Linked DNA regions of Homo sapiens: region 2 is linked to region 1. The links come from fine-mapping of genetic effects on gene expression. A gene starts in region 1. The other region holds a variant in brackets. All regions are shown on one strand. Distances are between the middles of the regions. Region 1 holds the start of MARF1 (meiosis regulator and mRNA stability factor 1). Region 2 overlaps MARF1 (meiosis regulator and mRNA stability factor 1).

What was found.
Region 2: its variant is fine-mapped to the expression of MARF1 in testis (GTEx, PIP 0.92).

What each region holds. Positions count from the first base shown.
Region 1 is chr16:15,639,137-15,647,470 of GRCh38, forward strand. MARF1 (meiosis regulator and mRNA stability factor 1) reads right to left here and starts at 4,018. Exons shown (of 27, transcript NM_014647.4): 1 at 3,882-4,018; 2 at 1-155. The coding sequence starts at 97. It overlaps MIR484 (microRNA 484), which reads left to right and starts at 4,158; the gene lies at 4,158-4,236. It also overlaps a transcript of NDE1 not described here.
Region 2 is chr16:15,590,361-15,598,694 of GRCh38, forward strand. MARF1 (meiosis regulator and mRNA stability factor 1) reads right to left here. Exons shown (of 27, transcript NM_014647.4): 27 at 4,027-6,577. The coding sequence ends at 6,333. Among named protein-coding and RNA genes, the nearest start is that of MIR6506, 17 kb to the right of the region's middle. RefSeq lists enhancers at 166-1,365, 712-1,006. The variant GAAAC/G (reference allele first, on the strand shown) is at 3,292.

The DNA of each region.
Region 1 (8,334 bases):
TAGAGAATTTCCAAAGCCATGGCTTAGCATCATTATCTTGTTGAAGCCATCCACGTGTTCTACTGCAGGAGTTCTCAGTTCCGTTTCCTTCCATCATACAGCCATGCAAAGTGATTCAACATCCTTTCATCTTTCTTTTCTTTCATTCTTCCACCCTGTTAAGAATGAGTAAGATTTCAGTGTTATTTCCTTGCATAAGTACAAATTTTACAACATACTAAAATGTGAAACCACAGCTATATTTACAGTCCTATGGCTCTCAACAATTCAAATCTTTGTTTCAAGAGGAAGTCTCGCTCTGTCGCCCAGGCTGGCATGCAGTGGTACGATCTCAGCTCACTGCAACCTCCGTCTCCCGGGTTCAAGCGATTTTTCTGCCTCAGCCTCCAGAGTAGCTGGGACTACAGGAGCCTGTCACTATGCCTGGCTAATTTTTATATTTTTAGTAGAGATGGGGTTTCACCAAGTTGGCCAGGCTGGTCTTGAACTCCTGACCTCAAGTGATCCACCCTCCTCGGCCTCCCAAAGTGCTGGGATTACAGGCATTAGCCACTGCGCCCGGCCAACAATTCAAATCTTAACAAACAAAATAATAATAATAAAATAAAGAAAGAAAAAAACACAAAATATCAGAGCATATTACGGGTTAATAAAATTTGGTAAACTTGGTTGACTGTTTATGCTTAAAATCTAACTGCAACAACCTGATTTCTTAAAAAATCTATAATCTGCCATTCTTCATGTTTCATAGCTCTTCAAATAAAAAATGAACTCTCCATGAGTCTTGTTTCCTTTCCACATGTAACCATGTTTGAGAGAGGTAGCCATATCTTGGAAACTTGCATATTCCAGAGTGAGACTTCACCTCCTCACTTGGCTGGAATCAATTTTTTCTACAGTTTTTCTGAATTCTTTTCGGCTCTCTCTCCCTAAAGATGCTGCTCAGGAAAGTCAAAAGTTAACAGAAGAGAGCATCTAATCTGAGTAAAAGAGCCACCACCACATCCTCATTGACAACTATATGTAAGATTTTAAAATTGACTTAAGAGCAACTTCTTGCACTGGTTTCTTGATCTGAGCATGAAAAGTCCAAACTAAGTGGCCTCTGTGGACTTTGAATTTGATTTGCTACAGAACAAATTGAACCAATTTCTTAGTTTACTAATGATGAAAGTGCAATCTGATATACCACCAAAAATCTAACTGATAGAAAAATCTCAAGTCGCAGATGTGTTATATCTACGCCAGAGCAACAACACTCTTACAGGTCTTAACAATAAATGCAAGCGAGGCACCGTGGCTCAGGCCTGCAATCCCAGCACTTTGGGAGGCCAAGGTGGGTGGATTGCTTGAGCCCAGGAGTTCCCAACCAGCCTGGGCAACATGGCAAAACCCCATGGCTACAAAAAATTAGCTGAGCGTGGTGGTGCATGCCTGTAGCCCCATCTACTCAGGAGGCTATGGTGGAAGAATCACCTAAGACTGCGTAGTCAAGGCTGCAGTGAGCTGTGATTGCACCACTGCACTGCAGCCTGGGCGACGGAGTGAGACCCTGTCTCAAAAACCAACAAACAAAATTACATGAAATTAAAATGTCAGTGTCCATAAATAAAGTTTAATTGGGACACAGACACACTCATTCACTTAAATACTGCCTATGACTGCTTTTGCATTCCAATTGCAGAGTTGCAAAGAGAGTCTCTGCAAAGAGACTGTATGGCCCACAAAGCCTATATTTACTACGTGGCTCTTTTGTCAGCCTGGGCAATATAGCAAGATCACAGCTCTAAAATAAAATAAAGTTCAAAAAATTAGCATAGTGTGGCAGCATGCGCCTAGTCCCAGCTACTAGAGAGACTGAGGTAGGAGGATCTCTTGAGCCCAAGAATTTGAGGCTACAGTGAACTATATTGTGCCACTGGCCCTTCAGCGTGGGCAACAGAGTGAGATTCCATCTCTAAAAAAATTTTTGTTTTCAAGTTTCTGTTTCCTCCTATGCAAAATGTGGCTAATTTCTCCCCGCCACTGCATTACAGAGAAAAAAAAAATTAGATAAATGAACCCCACTGTCTATTTTCACCACTGTATCTCTTGTGCCAACCAAAATGCTCCCTACTCTGTAAATACAAAGTAAACATTACCTACTACACACTATTGGGAGTGGTTAATTTGGAGATGGATTTAACTGCTACCACTGATAGTAAATTACGATTCTTGTCTTTCCTATTAGATACAGGTTTTATGTCCCCCAAAAAACTCCTCTCAAAATCGTAAGAATCTGTGATATTCACAGTGTTCATAACTTAAACATTCTCTCAAACTTCTTCAAAGCCAAATCCTGAAAGTGAGCTAACATTCACAGTATAATCTAGTTTATAAAGTATTTTCACTTAACATTACTTATGTCTTCATTCAGCAAATATTTACTTAGTATCTACTATGCAGCAGGCCTGTGCTTGGCACAAGGAATATAATGATGAAAAAAACCCAGACGGTGGGATCCTCTTATATAATTTTTGCAATAATCCTGTGAAATAGACAGGGGAGAAATTAGCTACATTTTTGCAGAGAGAGAAAAAGAAACTTAATGAAGTTTTGTAGCGAGCCTGACACAAGATTAGGCTTGTTCACCCCTTTCCACTACATCAAGGTGCCTTCAATACTGCTCAATACAAGCGATTAAAAGTAAAAACTTTCAGGTGCCTGCACCCTGAAAACTTCCCAAATACCATCCACGAAGCAACTTAGGTAGCCAAAAGCAGGTTCTGTTTGACTTGAGCGACAGTCTCCTTTCTGTCACTCTCTTCAAGTCTTTTGACCAATTCAATGAGGAGAGCATAGGCTCTGTCGACTGTCTGCATTTTGGTCTCCAATTTGACTGCGGTGCAGCTTTGGACAACTCACAACCTCTCTGAACCTCAGATCCCATCTCTAAAATGGGTGTGATAATAATAGAAACCACCTTACAAGGCCGTTGTTTGGATTACATGAGGTAATCCACGGGGAACATTTAGCAAATGTTGTTTCCTTAGCACCCAATCTAGTCTTTGACCCCACACCACCCCATCCCATTACCGTTTTCTCCCCCATAGCTCTTCTGTCCAAAACGGCCTTTTTAGCTTATTTTATTATCTTTCTCCCCCATTAGGCTATAAACTCCATGACAGCAGAGACTATGTTTTCTTATCCACTATTCCAACTCCTGTCCTTAGTACAATGCCTGGCATATTTTAATAAATAACTGTTGAACGAATAAAGCTTAATAAATAGGAAAACAGTTTAGGTTTCAATACACCGATATGCAAAAGAGAAGAATATTTACCGCTCAGAGAAGTCCAAAAGACACAAATGCAATTGGACAGCTCTTGGTAATACCGGAAAGGTGCTTGAGAAACTCTAAAAGGTGTATCACGAGGTCGCGTTACAACTACTAGTGAGAGTGGCTGAAGCCCTAGACATTGTCAACCCTGAGACTACACCCTATGTGTTGCTAAAAGGCCGAGGAGAATGCAAAACGGCCGGGGAGGGGGGAGTGTGTTGCAAAAACACCCGCCCCTTTCCTTCTCTCTTAACCTTCCAGCTGTGCACTTCACTCCTGGAGGGCCCCACCAGGGGTCAGACAGGGGCGGGCGGGGAGCCAAATGCCCTCGAAGGGGAACAGCGGCGCCAACAGTGACAGTAGTGAATGGACCCGAAAGGGAGACAAGCCAACTCTTTCGTGGGGGGCCCAACTGGCGCGTCCCAGTTAGCTAACCTCCCCTCTCCACCACCATCCCACCAGCAATAGGCGGGGAAAGAGGGGACACTGTCCTCCGTCCCGCCCCGCTGGCCTCGGAGCAGAGCCTGCCGGGGTCTGGTCGCAGGACTGTCTGCAAACTCACCTCTGCCGCCGGCTCCACCTCCGCTCACATTCCGGCCCCGCCGCCTTCCCCCCGCCCCCCCCAGGCCCTTTGTTTTGATTCCCGACTCCGCAGCTCCCGCCGCCGCCGCCAAGCGCACCCTTCACTTCCGCTTCCGCACCGCACCGCCCCTGTCGCAAAACCGACGCCCTTCTCTCCTCTTCGCCCCGCCCCTTCCTCGCCCCGCCTCCGCCGCCGCGTCCTGTCCGCGCGGGGCATGCTGGGAACCCCGGGGGGGGCGGGGCCTCGCGGCCCTGCAGCCTCGTCAGGCTCAGTCCCCTCCCGATAAACCCCTAAATAGGGACTTTCCCGGGGGGTGACCCTGGCTTTTTTGGCGAAAACCCCCAGTTTAAGGAGGCCTTCCCCCTGGCTTCACGTTGTGGAGTCGAAAGGAACCTTGAAGCGGAGAATGAGCTCGTGACGTGGACCCGAGGAAAAAACCTGCCAACCAGGATTTAATAGAATTCAGCTCTTTCAGGCTTTGGAGGGAAGGCGATTTGAACGGGATTTCAATGAAAAACCCTGTCCCTTCGGCTTTTTTTTTTTCCTCTCTCGGGTCTCGTCACGTGATGGTCCTACTTTATTTTTAAAAATTAAATGGCGCATATTCCCCAGCATCCTAAATCTAGTGCAACCTAGTGGCAAGTGGAGAAAAAAATAACTGCCAACCTGGCTTCCTACGAGGTCCCCCGGAGTTCTCGCAAAGTTGCGACCCAGTTGGCAAAAATACAGTGTGTGCAAAGACTCAACTGGACATTGCCACCAAGAATCAAGAGATTTTTGGGGACTTTAGCAAGAAAACGTTATTTTTAAAAGCCCTGCTCCAAAGCTGGTTACAAATGAATACTGCGTTTCCAGTGACAGGTTGGGCGAGCAGAAAGGAAATCTTACGGTTAGTTTCAAACACTTTGTGTTTTAGGTGGCCAGATATGCTGTGTGGTTTGCTTTAAAAAAAAAAATAGCGCCCCACAATCTTCACGTTTCCCTGGAATAAAAAAAAATTTAAGACTCAGCAAAAGGGTGATTTCTGAAACTACCAGCTGATTACTATTTTCTGTTGCAAATTAGGAAAAAAGCAAAGCACATATTGTGTAAGTTAAATCTAGACACGATTTAGGATGTGCTAGCTGCTAGCTAAATGCTACCTTAGGAGTTTATTTTTAAAGTTTGCCCAGAAACAAGTTGACTTTGCAAAAGAATCAGTAAGTCGAAATTGCCAAACGAGAATATTTTGCCCAAAAAAATCCTTACTGGGAGGTTATTTCAATAGGCAATCCCCATTACGTGGGGATTAACACATCCCTGTAAACATCCCTGTAGACGGGTATTGTGGAGGGCAGGATCAGACATGTAGCTGAAGAATCCTTTGTGCCTGTATTTAATTTTCCAGAAGGCAGATGACAAGCACACATCCTCTCCCTGCGTAGGTATTTATTACTGCTGACTAAATCTTGACTGTGGGCTGGGCGCAGTGGCTCAGGCCTGTATTCCCAATACTTTGAGAGGCTACGGAGGGAGGATCTCTTGAGCCTACAAATTTGAGACTAGACTGGGAAACGGTGAAACCCTATCACTATTTAGAAAAGAAAGAAAAAGAAAAAAATCTTCATTATGTCTGTGTATAGGTAGTATTTTCCAAGTGGAGATTAGAATAGATGAAAAACCCGTTTCTAGCGTTTTGGCTTTTTTCAAAGTACCAAACAAATACGCTACTCTTCAGAGGTGTTTTTTCCCCATTTTATTTCAGTTGAGTATGTTTCAACACAAGCCATATTAACTAAAAATCTTAAGAAACAAGGTAATTGTAGGTTTCTAATTGCTTTTTTTAAAAAATAGTTTTTAGCCAGAAAACATCAAAGAATGCAGACACATTTCCTTTTTACTTTTTTTTTTTTTTTTTTTGAGACAAAGTCTTGCTTCATTGCCCAGGCTGGAGTGCAGTGGCAGGATCTTGGCTCACTGCAGCCTCCACCTCCCGGGTTCAACCGATTCTCATGCCTCAGCCTCCTGAGTAGCTAGGATTACAGGCGCCCACCACCATGCCTGGCTAATTTTTGTGTTTTTAGTAGAGACGGGATATTGCCATGTTGGCCAGGCTGGTCTCGAACTCCTAGCCTCAAGTGATCCTCCCGCCTCGGCCTCTTTAGGATTACAGGGCTGAGCCAACGAGCTTGACCACATTTTCTTTATATGTATATTTTTCTTTTAGATTCCTTTTTACCAAGCAGACACATTTTGTTTGACTTAGCTTGGCATTCTTTCAAGTCCAAAGCTGTAACTAGTCACAACAAGTAAATGTAGTGATTGAAAATGGGCGGGGCATGGTGACTCATGTCGTAATCCCAGCACTTTGGGAGGCTGAGACAGGAGGACCCCTTGAGGCTTGGTGTTTAAAACCAGCCTGAGCAACATGGTGTGACACTTGTCTCTATTAAAAAAATTTTTAAAAACAAAACAGTCGTATTAAGTGGAAGGCTAATAAAAGTCTGAATTACAAATACTTTTAAAAGAAATGTAATTTTATTGCTGCTTTCTAAAGACTAGGAGCCTAAGCAAAGTATACCAGGCCTTAGGAGACAATTATGAATCAAAATACATAAATTTTCTCTTAAGATATATTTTAAGTATGTATCCTCTATTAATTGTATTCCTGTTTCTTTGCTGGGAAAACTTTAGAGAGTACAAGTAACTTTCAGTTTTTCCCTTGTCCAAATTATAGTCTTCACATGTATGAAAACCGAAAGACTTTTTTGTGTGCTATTTAAGTAGCTACTTTACATGCAATTCAGCTTTTCAACTAACCAAGCTGTTATTAAAGGAGTTTCTCCCCAGAAACCAATCTTCTACCTGTATTAGGTTCAGTGGTTTGAATTAATAAATGATCATGGAAGGACCTAAGGAAGTTAAATTGAGTTATCTGCTCAGCCATAGTCCAAAGCTACAAGGAAAACAAATTGAATTTAAAAAGAACAAGAAAAACATTTTAAATGTTTTTAAGGTTTTACCCAATGACAAACCTATTTCCCTAAATGTTGTTCCCAAATAGGACTTTAAGGATTATTATTTCAATGCCCTCTCTTTTTTCTTTATGGAAAATTTGGGAAATTGAGAACCAACTAGTTTAAATACCTTGATCAAAGCCATTTAGGCAACACCAGTACCTCATCAGTTTGTGCTTCGGTTTCTCTGTAAGCTGAGGTGATTAGTTCCTGTCCAGAAACGTCACAGAGTGGTTAGGGCCAAATAAAATTCCGAGGGGGGCCAGGCGCAGTGGCTCACGCCTGTAATCCCAGCACTTTGGGAGGCCGAGGCAGGTGGATCACTTGAGGTCAGGAGTTCGAGACCAGCCTGGCCAAACCAACATGGTGAAACCCTGTGTCTACTAAAACTACAAAATTAGCTGGACGTGGTGGTGCACACCTGAAATCCCAGCTACTCAGGAATCTGAGGCAGGAGAATCGCTTGAACCCAGGAGGAAGAGGTTGCGGTGAGCCGAGATCGTGCCACTGCACTCCAGCCTGGGCAACAGAACGAGACTCCGTCAAAAAAAAGAAAAAAAAAATCCAAGGGGGGTTAATACCAGCTACTTGGTAGGCTGAGGCAGGAGAATCGCTTGAACTGGAAGGTGGAGGTTACAATGAGCCGAGATCGCACCACTGCACTCTAGCCTGGGCGACAGAGTGAGATTCCATCTTAATGAATAAGTAAATAAGTAATAAAATTCCTAAGGGGAGGCTTGGTGTGGTGGCTCATGCCTGTAATCCCAGCACTTTTGGAGGCTGAGGCGGGTGGAGCACTTGAGGTCAGGAGTTCAAAACCAGCCTGGCCAACATGGTGAAACCCTGCCTCTACTAAAATAGAAAAATTAGGTGGGCATGGTGGTGAACACCTGTAATCCCAGCTAGTCGAAAGGCTGAGGCAGGAGAATCGCTTGAACCCGGGAGGTGGAGGTTGCAGTGAGCCGAGATTGCAGCACTGCACTCTAGCCTGGGCAACAGAGTGAAACTCTGTCTCGAAATAAAATAAAATTCCAAGGGGGAAGGCATCAGACGTAGTAAAGTGTGAAGCAGCATGTAAATGATTCATTAATGTTTGGGAAGTTTCCTGAAAGACATTTGGTACTTTCCTTAAACCTGTTGATAGGTGGTGGGGTTCCCCTTTGTGCCTCTAAGCAGTTTTTAGGAATTAGCAAGGAGTTCAAAGTAGAATTTGAGAAAGGCTGTTGTAGGATAGCAGGAAGGCAAGATGGGGTGGGAGATCCTGTAATAGCTAAGATCTCTTTGCCTCTAGCATAGTGCTGAAGAAGGAGGGTTTAGGAGTCAGAGCCAGCTCTGAAGCCTGATTTGTTAATTACTAGTTGTAAGACCTCGGACAACTCAATTAACTTCCTGCACCTTTATTTTCTTATCTTTAACATGGATACAATTTAATGCTT
Region 2 (8,334 bases), 49 kb before region 1:
CCTGGCTAACACGGTGAAACCCCATCTCTACTACAAATACAAAAAATTAGCCGGGCGTGGTGGTGGACGCCTGTAGTCCCAGCTACTCAGGAGGCTGAGGCAGGAAAATGGCGTGAACCCGGGAGGCGGAGCTTGCAGTGAGCAGAGCTTGCGGTGAGCAGAGATTGTGCCACTGCACTCCAGCCTGGGCGACAGAGCGAGACTCCATCTCAAAAAAAAAGGGGAGAGGGGAGTGGGGGGGTCAGCGAGGTCTGACCTCAGGCCAGTTATACAGCAGTCACTCACAGATCCAACGAACCAGAGGAGATCAAACCCTCATCAAAATCCTGCCTCTGGTACTTCCGCTAAGCTCTGGGTACACCTACTGTATGTTCCTGTAATTCCTACTGATTTTTTTAAAAAAAGAAAACATTAAAAAATCCAATTTATTTAAGCTGTCACAGACGCTTCCAGATTACCAGGGCCACCTTCCAAGCTGGGAAACCTTGCAGACTGTGGGGTCCTGCACACCTAGACTTGCTCCTTTTAGAAGCCATGGAGGAGGTTGATAATGGGAATAACATTTATTGTAGCTTATCTCTATGCCTTGAGCAATGTGCTCACACTGGCTGGTTCCCTCCTCACATCAGCCTGATGAGTCAGATCCTGTTATTACTTCTCACTTTACAGATGAGGAAGTAGCAGTAAATCCATTACCCTTTTCAAGCGGAGGTTGCAAGAGGTTGCAAGCGGAGGCAGAATAAACACTTGAAACAGTGAGTCAGATCCTGTTATCACTTCTCACTTTACAGATGAGGAAGTGGCAGTAAATCCACTGCCCACGGTCCCAGGGGTTGTTAGTGACAGAGTCATCATTCATCTCCCTCCCTCCCCACCACTGTAGCCCCAATTGTTCTTTCTCTTCCCATCGGAGGGATTTAAACAGGTCTCTCCCATTTAAAAGCAAACAGGGCTGGACACGGTGGCTCACGCCTGTAATCCCAGCACTTTGGGAGGCCGAGGCGGGCAAATCACGAGATCAGGAGATTGAGACCATCCTGGCTAACATGGTGAAAACCCATCTGTACTAAAAATACAAAAAAATTACCTGGGCATGGTGGTGGGCGCCTGTGGTCCCAGCTACTTGGGAGGCTGAGGCAGGAGAATCGCTTGAACCTGGGAGGCAGAGGTTGCAGTGAGCCGAGATTGCGCCACTGCACTCCAGTCTGGAGACACAGCAAGACTTTGTCTCAAAACACACACACACACACACACACACACACACACACAACACAACACAACAACAACAACAACAAAAAAAGTGTCCTCTTCCTTTTAGAGAATTTAAAAAACAGGGTGAAACCCCATGTCTACTAAAAATACAAAAATTAGCAAGTGTGGTGGCACATGCTTGTAATCCCAGCTACCCGGAAGGCTAAGGCAGGAGAATCGGTTGAAACCAGGAGGCGGAGGTTGCAAAGAGCCGAGATCGCACCATTGCACTCCAGCCTGGGCAACAGAGTGAGACTCCATCTCGGAAAAAAAAAGTGGGGGCTTGGGGGTTCCGGGCATGGTTGACTGTGTGACTATATTATATCTATACATAATATATAGATATATATCTATATATAATATATAGATATCTATATATTATATATAGATATATATCTCTATTATATATAATAGATATATCTATTTATATATAGATATTATAGAGACATCTATATCTATATCTATATATAATATCTATATTATATTACGCCTGTAATCCCCGCACTTTGGGAGGCCGAGGCAAGTGAACCACTTGAGGCCAGGAGTTTGAGACGAGCCAGAGCAACATGGCAAAACCCCGTCTCAAAAAAAATTAGCCAGGTGTGGTGGCAGCATCTGTAATCCCAGCTGTTCGGAGGCTGAGGCATGAGAATCGCTTGAACCCGGTAGGAGGTTGCAGTGAGCCGAGATCGTGCCACTGCACCCCAGTCTGGGCGATAGAGTGAGACTCTGTCTCAAAAAAAAAAAAAATGTATTTCCTGATTCTTGCCACACCTGCCCTTGATGCATCAGACTCTGGCTGCTGAAATACCAAGGGCGGCGACCCTGCAGCCCCAGTGTGGATTTGTCTGCACTTGCTGATACCAGAAACTGCAGTGGGGGCAGGTGGGTGGTAGGAGCGGGGGTTCCCTCATGCCCAGGCCCTGCACCTGGGAAGCCTTTGGAGGCCATCACATGAGCTGCCTGAGGCGGATGGAAGAGACGGTGCCAAGCAGGCCCAATATGTTCCCTGCTGGCCCTGGTACTGCTCCCCTGCGGATGCTCCTGGTTGGTTCACCACCTCGTGCGGAGTGAGGAGCTGAGCAGCCCAGCCACTGAGCAGGATTTCCCTCTAAGAACGGCCCCTTCCACCCTGCAATGCCTTCTTCCTCTGCACCTCAGCTCCCCCACTTCCAAGGCGTTCCTTCCCGGAACGTGTGTATTCTTCTCTTCATCTTGCTAAGGAAAGTTCTGGCTCTTGGTGCTCTGGCTTGGCACCTTCTAAGCTCTCTAGCCCTTTTCCCCCCGCCCCCCCCCCCCCCAAAAAAAAGCGTTCTCAGCCAGGCGTGGTGGCTCATGCCTGTAATTCCAGCACTTTGGGAGGCTGAGCCCAGAGGATCACTTGAGCTCAGGAGTTCAAAACTAGCCTGGCCAACATGGTGAAACCTCATCTCTACTAAAAATACAAAAATTTGCCAGTGTGATGGTGCACATATGTAATCCCAGCTACTCGGGAGGCTGAGACAGGACAATCGCTTGAACCTGGGAGGTGGAGGTTGCAGTGAGCTGAGATTATGCCACTGCACTCCAGCCTGGGTGACAGAGTGAGACTGTCTCAAAAAACCAAAAAACAAAACAAAAAACCACTCAGGCTTAGCCATTTCTCTGGGGTCTTCATTTCCTTATGAAGACTCTCGCAAAACTGGTATGAAGTAAAATTTGTTTGCTTTTTTCCTATTAATGTCTTTGTCAGTTTAAGGCCCAGCCAGGGACACTAGGAGAATTGAGGAAGTTTTGCCGCCCACCGCCCCCCCCCCCAGCAATGGGGACAGCAGGTGGGTGGAGGCCGCTGAGGGCTTCTGCGCCATGACTCACCCTCTGCCCATGGAAGCAGCTAGAAAGTGAAGGTGAATCCCAAAGCGCAACGCTCCTTCTGGCAAAGGGAACAGAGAGGGAACAGATCTTCTTCAATCAGCGCAGCCCCCTCTGCTACGGACAGGTCTGCTCTCCCCCAGACAGCTGTCTTCTAGGCCCCCACCTCTGAATCACCTTCCTAGGTGG[GAAAC/G]AAACAAAGATAAATGCAAAGCCACCGTTCCAGCCCCAGTCCACACCTAACAAGACCTCCTGACGCCGCTCAAAAGGGGCACGATGGCTACTCAACTTTTTCTGCACAAATTTGCCATCGTGAAATGTTTGGAAAGGTCTTTAGCAGCTTTTAACATTGCTGAACTTGAAAAAAATGTCATCAAGAAGCAATTTACTCAAGTCTCTTCTGGGTCCTTTTAAATTCTTGCCAGAGGGTGCTGGTGGCAGGGGTGACGGGGTAATGGCGGTCTCAGGGGATGGGAGGGCTTCACAACTGTATCTGTGGAATAACTCTTTTCCAAATTGGCTTATTCAAAAAGCATGCTTAGCAGTGACCAAAAACGAGACAGCGGGCACGCTGGATTTCTTTCACAAGAAGAGAGAGCCTAGGAATTAATAGAGTTTTCTAACTGGAAGGTTTTTGTGGTTACTGTATTTTCCCACATGTAATTATAAGCTGGAACAAAGGCTGGAAAACTTGGAGGATCCTGACGACGAAGGGCCCACCATCCAGCCACCTGCTTCGGCGTGTGCTGAGTTTAAAAGGCCTCTAAGATGTAGACGGATTTACTCTCCACCTCACAATTCTATTTCCAGAAGGGGAGAGAAGTTGAGGAGACCCAAAATGAAAGATGGCAGAACTGTATTGGTTTGTAATTCCTCCCCACAGACAGACAGACAGACAAAACCACTCACTTGGGAAACTCAAAATAGATGCTCGCTTGTAAAGTTTATTGACAACTGTTTGGTCCCAACACACAAAACAGCACTTGAACCACAACAAAAGTGTTCAAACAAAGTAGACAACTAAGAAAAACATCTCTTTCCCCCAAACCCAATCCAAAACAAACAGTGCAAGATGGGAAAGGGGGTTTTGGTGATAACTTTTGTCATTTTTTTAAACAGATAAATTTAATCCGGTATATCTTTCCACCCAGAAATAAAGAATTACATTGTCTTAATGCTCAAACATCATTTTACCACATCATTTAATTAAGCCTCTGGATAAAAAAATAGATAGCAATTGGACTGGCCATTGTGGAGTACATTATGAACACAATGTGCTTCCGAAGTCTTCTCTCTCATTTTCAGACAGCAATTGTTAAGAGTCACACACACGTCCCAGACCTAAGCAGCAACTCCAGTGAATGGTACTCAGACACACTCACGGGACAGCACAGAACTTGATTCTTCTTTGTCTGTTGCCCAAAGAACCTGTTCTTTGAGTCTGTTCCAGGTGACTTGTAATGATACCTCTTACGGTTTTAAAGTCCACCACTCTTTACATGCTAGCAGAACTGAAGTCCAAGCGTGCAAACTCAGCCTTATGAAATCTTAGAATAAGGCAACTGATGTTCTCAACACCAATTATTATTACTTTGTTTAAAAGCTCCTTTAAAAAAAATTGCACATTTGCATTTCACTTCCTGTAACACTATGTCTGTAGAGGAAATGCCTTCAGGAGGATTCGGAGAGTGCCATAATACTTACAGGGTTTTTTCCATGGTGTTCTGTCTTGACTGGGGCCATGTGTTGAGAACTGGGAGTCACTGGCTTCATTTAAAAGATTTGGGGAACAAAAAATCTGACTTGTAAAAATCTCTCTATAGCCCTTATTTTGTGGCATTTTATCAAAATGCTATGAAATCAGAGTCCATTTTCTGGCTTTCTAGAAGTTACCAAATATAAACATTTCCCCAAAAGAAACCATCTAACTAGTGGAAGACCTTACGCCAACAGGTTCTTTCTGCTCTATGAATGAATCCGCCTTTTTTGCCGGACAAATACAATCCATTGTAAATGTCAGGTTTCTCTAGAGGGGGGTGAGAGGCCACCCGTCAGCGGACACCTCAGGCACCTAGAGAGGAAGGCCATTCCACACCAGACGCCACAAGAAACCCAGAGATGCTTCCAACAGCGAGAAGTAACGAGAGTAAAATCAGACACGATTAAAAGATGCTGAGCTGACATACACACACATAAAGCTTCCCAGCTACCGATACCAGCTTTAAAATTACAATAACAAGGTTAAGTGGATCAACCTTGGCCTTCCTATGTGTAGGTAGAATTCCTGTCTCTTCCCAGTGGAAATCGTATTGATCCCGCTGCTGCTGAAGCACCTCCCCACTCAGCTCTGATTTGTAATTTATGCACTTGATGCATATTTTAGAAAATCAGGCTCTTTCCAATGCTGCCTCTCGACACACAATAATGTGTGTTGTAATCCAAATGCTGACTTTAAATCCATGACATCGAGACCATCTCCTTTTCCTTAACCTAACCCATATCAAACTGGAACACAGAAGGGAAGCTTCAAACATCCTCAACTTTCTAGAAAGCTCCTAAATGGAACCCCAAAGTAGAAACGTTTAAAAAAATTTGTGATGAAGCCACTTTTGTCAACTACAGACATAGTTTAAATAAAAAACAAGGCACACTTACAAGTCACATGGAAGCCAGGAACCTTCACATTCCAACCTGAAAATACACTCCGAACCCCTCGCCTACCCTTCTCCTTTGGTGTGTGAACACACAGGCTAGCGGGACAGGCTTTGCTTCAAAGACATGCCACGCACTGGGTTAATACTGTCGGAAACACCAGTAAGCAAAGGCTGAGAGACTCTATTATGCTACATGTAGGATGACACCACCGACGTGGCTCAATGGAAGCAAAACCGCTTCCTGCTAGTTGAGTTTTTAGTGCTTTCTTCTTTTGGAACACCATTGTATTTCATAATAGTTACTAAAAATTTGGTAAAATATATTAAGGATTCTTTAACAAATGCCACAAGTTCTTCAAATAATTGAAAAAAGAAAGAAAAAGGAAGAAGAAAAGAAAGACTTCAGCTCAAAGCTGTGTTCAATGGAAAAGAAAAACATGATAGAACACAGGTAAGATGAAGTCAATGGCTTCGGGGGGTTTTCATGACACAGAAAAGGATGTATTTTTGAAACCCACTTTTGTGTGCAGAATCAGACAGTGTTTTCCCATCCTAATTCTATATTCCAAATGGGAGTTAAAGCTTGGTTATAGGTGCTAAGGAAAAGTTGGCTGCCAATTTGACTCTATTTTTGGGTTGCTTTTTGGCCGGGCTTTCCACGGGGTCCTTGCTGAGCAGTGACTCGGAGGTTTCCGAGGAGGGGCAGGGAGGCACGGGGACAGCTGCTGAGATGCAGGACGAGCTGGAGTCAGAGGTCAGAGTTTTGCTCTTTCCTGGTATTGGAATCTCCATTTTTTCTTCTTGGTTTAAAATCATAATTTCTGTAAACACAGAAAAGCAAACAGATTCAGATCCAGGAACTGTAAGAAGTGTGGGTTTTCTCTTCCTTGCTCATATTTTCTCAAAAGATAATAATAGTAATAAAAAGCTTCTAAATGCTACATCTATGCCACAGTTTACATATGAGTTGTGTGGCCAGTGAACTTGGCACAGAAATCAAGTATCTATAAACTGCATCCCACCTCTCCCACTGGATTACAAAGTTGGAAAGATCTCTATTTTGAGCTATAAATGAATGAGCAAAGGTTAAAACTTTTTGTTTTTCCATTTTGGATTCTCTGCCCATTCATTCTGCCTGCCAGATATTAAGGACCCATAAAGCTATCCACGACTTAGAGACTTCCTGAGGCGGGAGGCCGTGGGTGGTAGGGGGTGGGGTCGGAGCATCTGGGTGTCAGGGAGCTCCTGGCCTGCTCCATTTAGAGAGGACCTATGCTCCCCATGGGTCTATTACCGGGGATAAGGAAGGACTACGCAGAGTGAGAATTACCCTCAGAACCCAGGAAGTTGAGCACAGCCAGCTTTCCCACAGTGCTTCTGGACTGCCATTTCTGTGGCTGAGCCACATGTAATTCACCTGCTCTACACACAGGGCCACGCTGCTTGAAAGAGATGCATCATTATGCCTTAGACTCCCACTGCATAGGGCACAGGGCTCCTGCTCCCAAAGGCCCATGGAAGGTGAGAGTGGCAGAGGGGACAGCAGAGCCAGCTCCCTGCCTAGGCTGACCCTCAAGAGAAGAGCGGCTGACAGAACTGCCCACAGTGTTTTAATTATTTTCCTCTCTTGTCCGGTGCATGCAGTTGAACTTGCCCAGACTGAAGGCACAAAGGCCACAACCCCACAAACGAGCTAACATCAATGTGCCACCAACCCTAGGGGGGCACTGCACAGGAGCAGGGCATGGTCTAGGTCTGACTGCACAGGCTGGTTCTATCCGCAGGCAGTTACTTCCCCATCTCCTATTTTCCAAGTCAACAGCCTCAGTTCTTTTCCTGGGCAACAGTGCTGAACGCTGCCAAGAACAACCAAGATGGTAAAAGCCAAGCCAGGAGTCCACGGGTTGTTCCTGGTGACCTGGAAAGCAGCACCAGCAGTGGGGAGGAGTTGGGTTCCAACAGATGAAGAGCAGGGAGGGATCTGTACAGGGCAGATGGGCCATCCTCTCCAGAGGCCAGGAGACACCGCAGGACAAGAGGGCTTGGGTTCCAATGCCGGCTCTGCCCTTGCTAGCCCAGCAGCCCGGGGCCACTGCCTCTCTAGTGACGGCACCAGCTGTGCCTTAGTCACGCAGCCTGTGGAATAAAGCAGCTGCCTTTATTCCACGGCTCTCACCTGGAGCCGTGGTAAGAGTTAAATGTGATGGTGTCTGTCAGCCCTGAGCACAGGGTCAGTGCCAATGCCTGCACTAGGCTGGGACTCAGTGTGCTCAGCTTCCTGTCTGTTATATCACTGGGCAGAGTCCGGGGCTCCAGCCACAGACACCTCCCTCCATTCACCCCTTTATAAAGCCCTTGGGCCCTCTGGACCCCCACCATGGGTGACGTGTACATCTGGTGACAGGTGTGCCTGAGAGCAGCTGAACCTTCACAAAGTCTGGGAGAGCAGAAGCCCAGGAGGCCCCACCCACCCCTGTGGACTCGCCCACAGCCCCGAGCCACCAGCCCTCCAGAGCTGCCAAATCGCCCTTGCCTGATGCTCGCCAGGCAACCTCAGGCTGTGCATCCCATTCTGCAG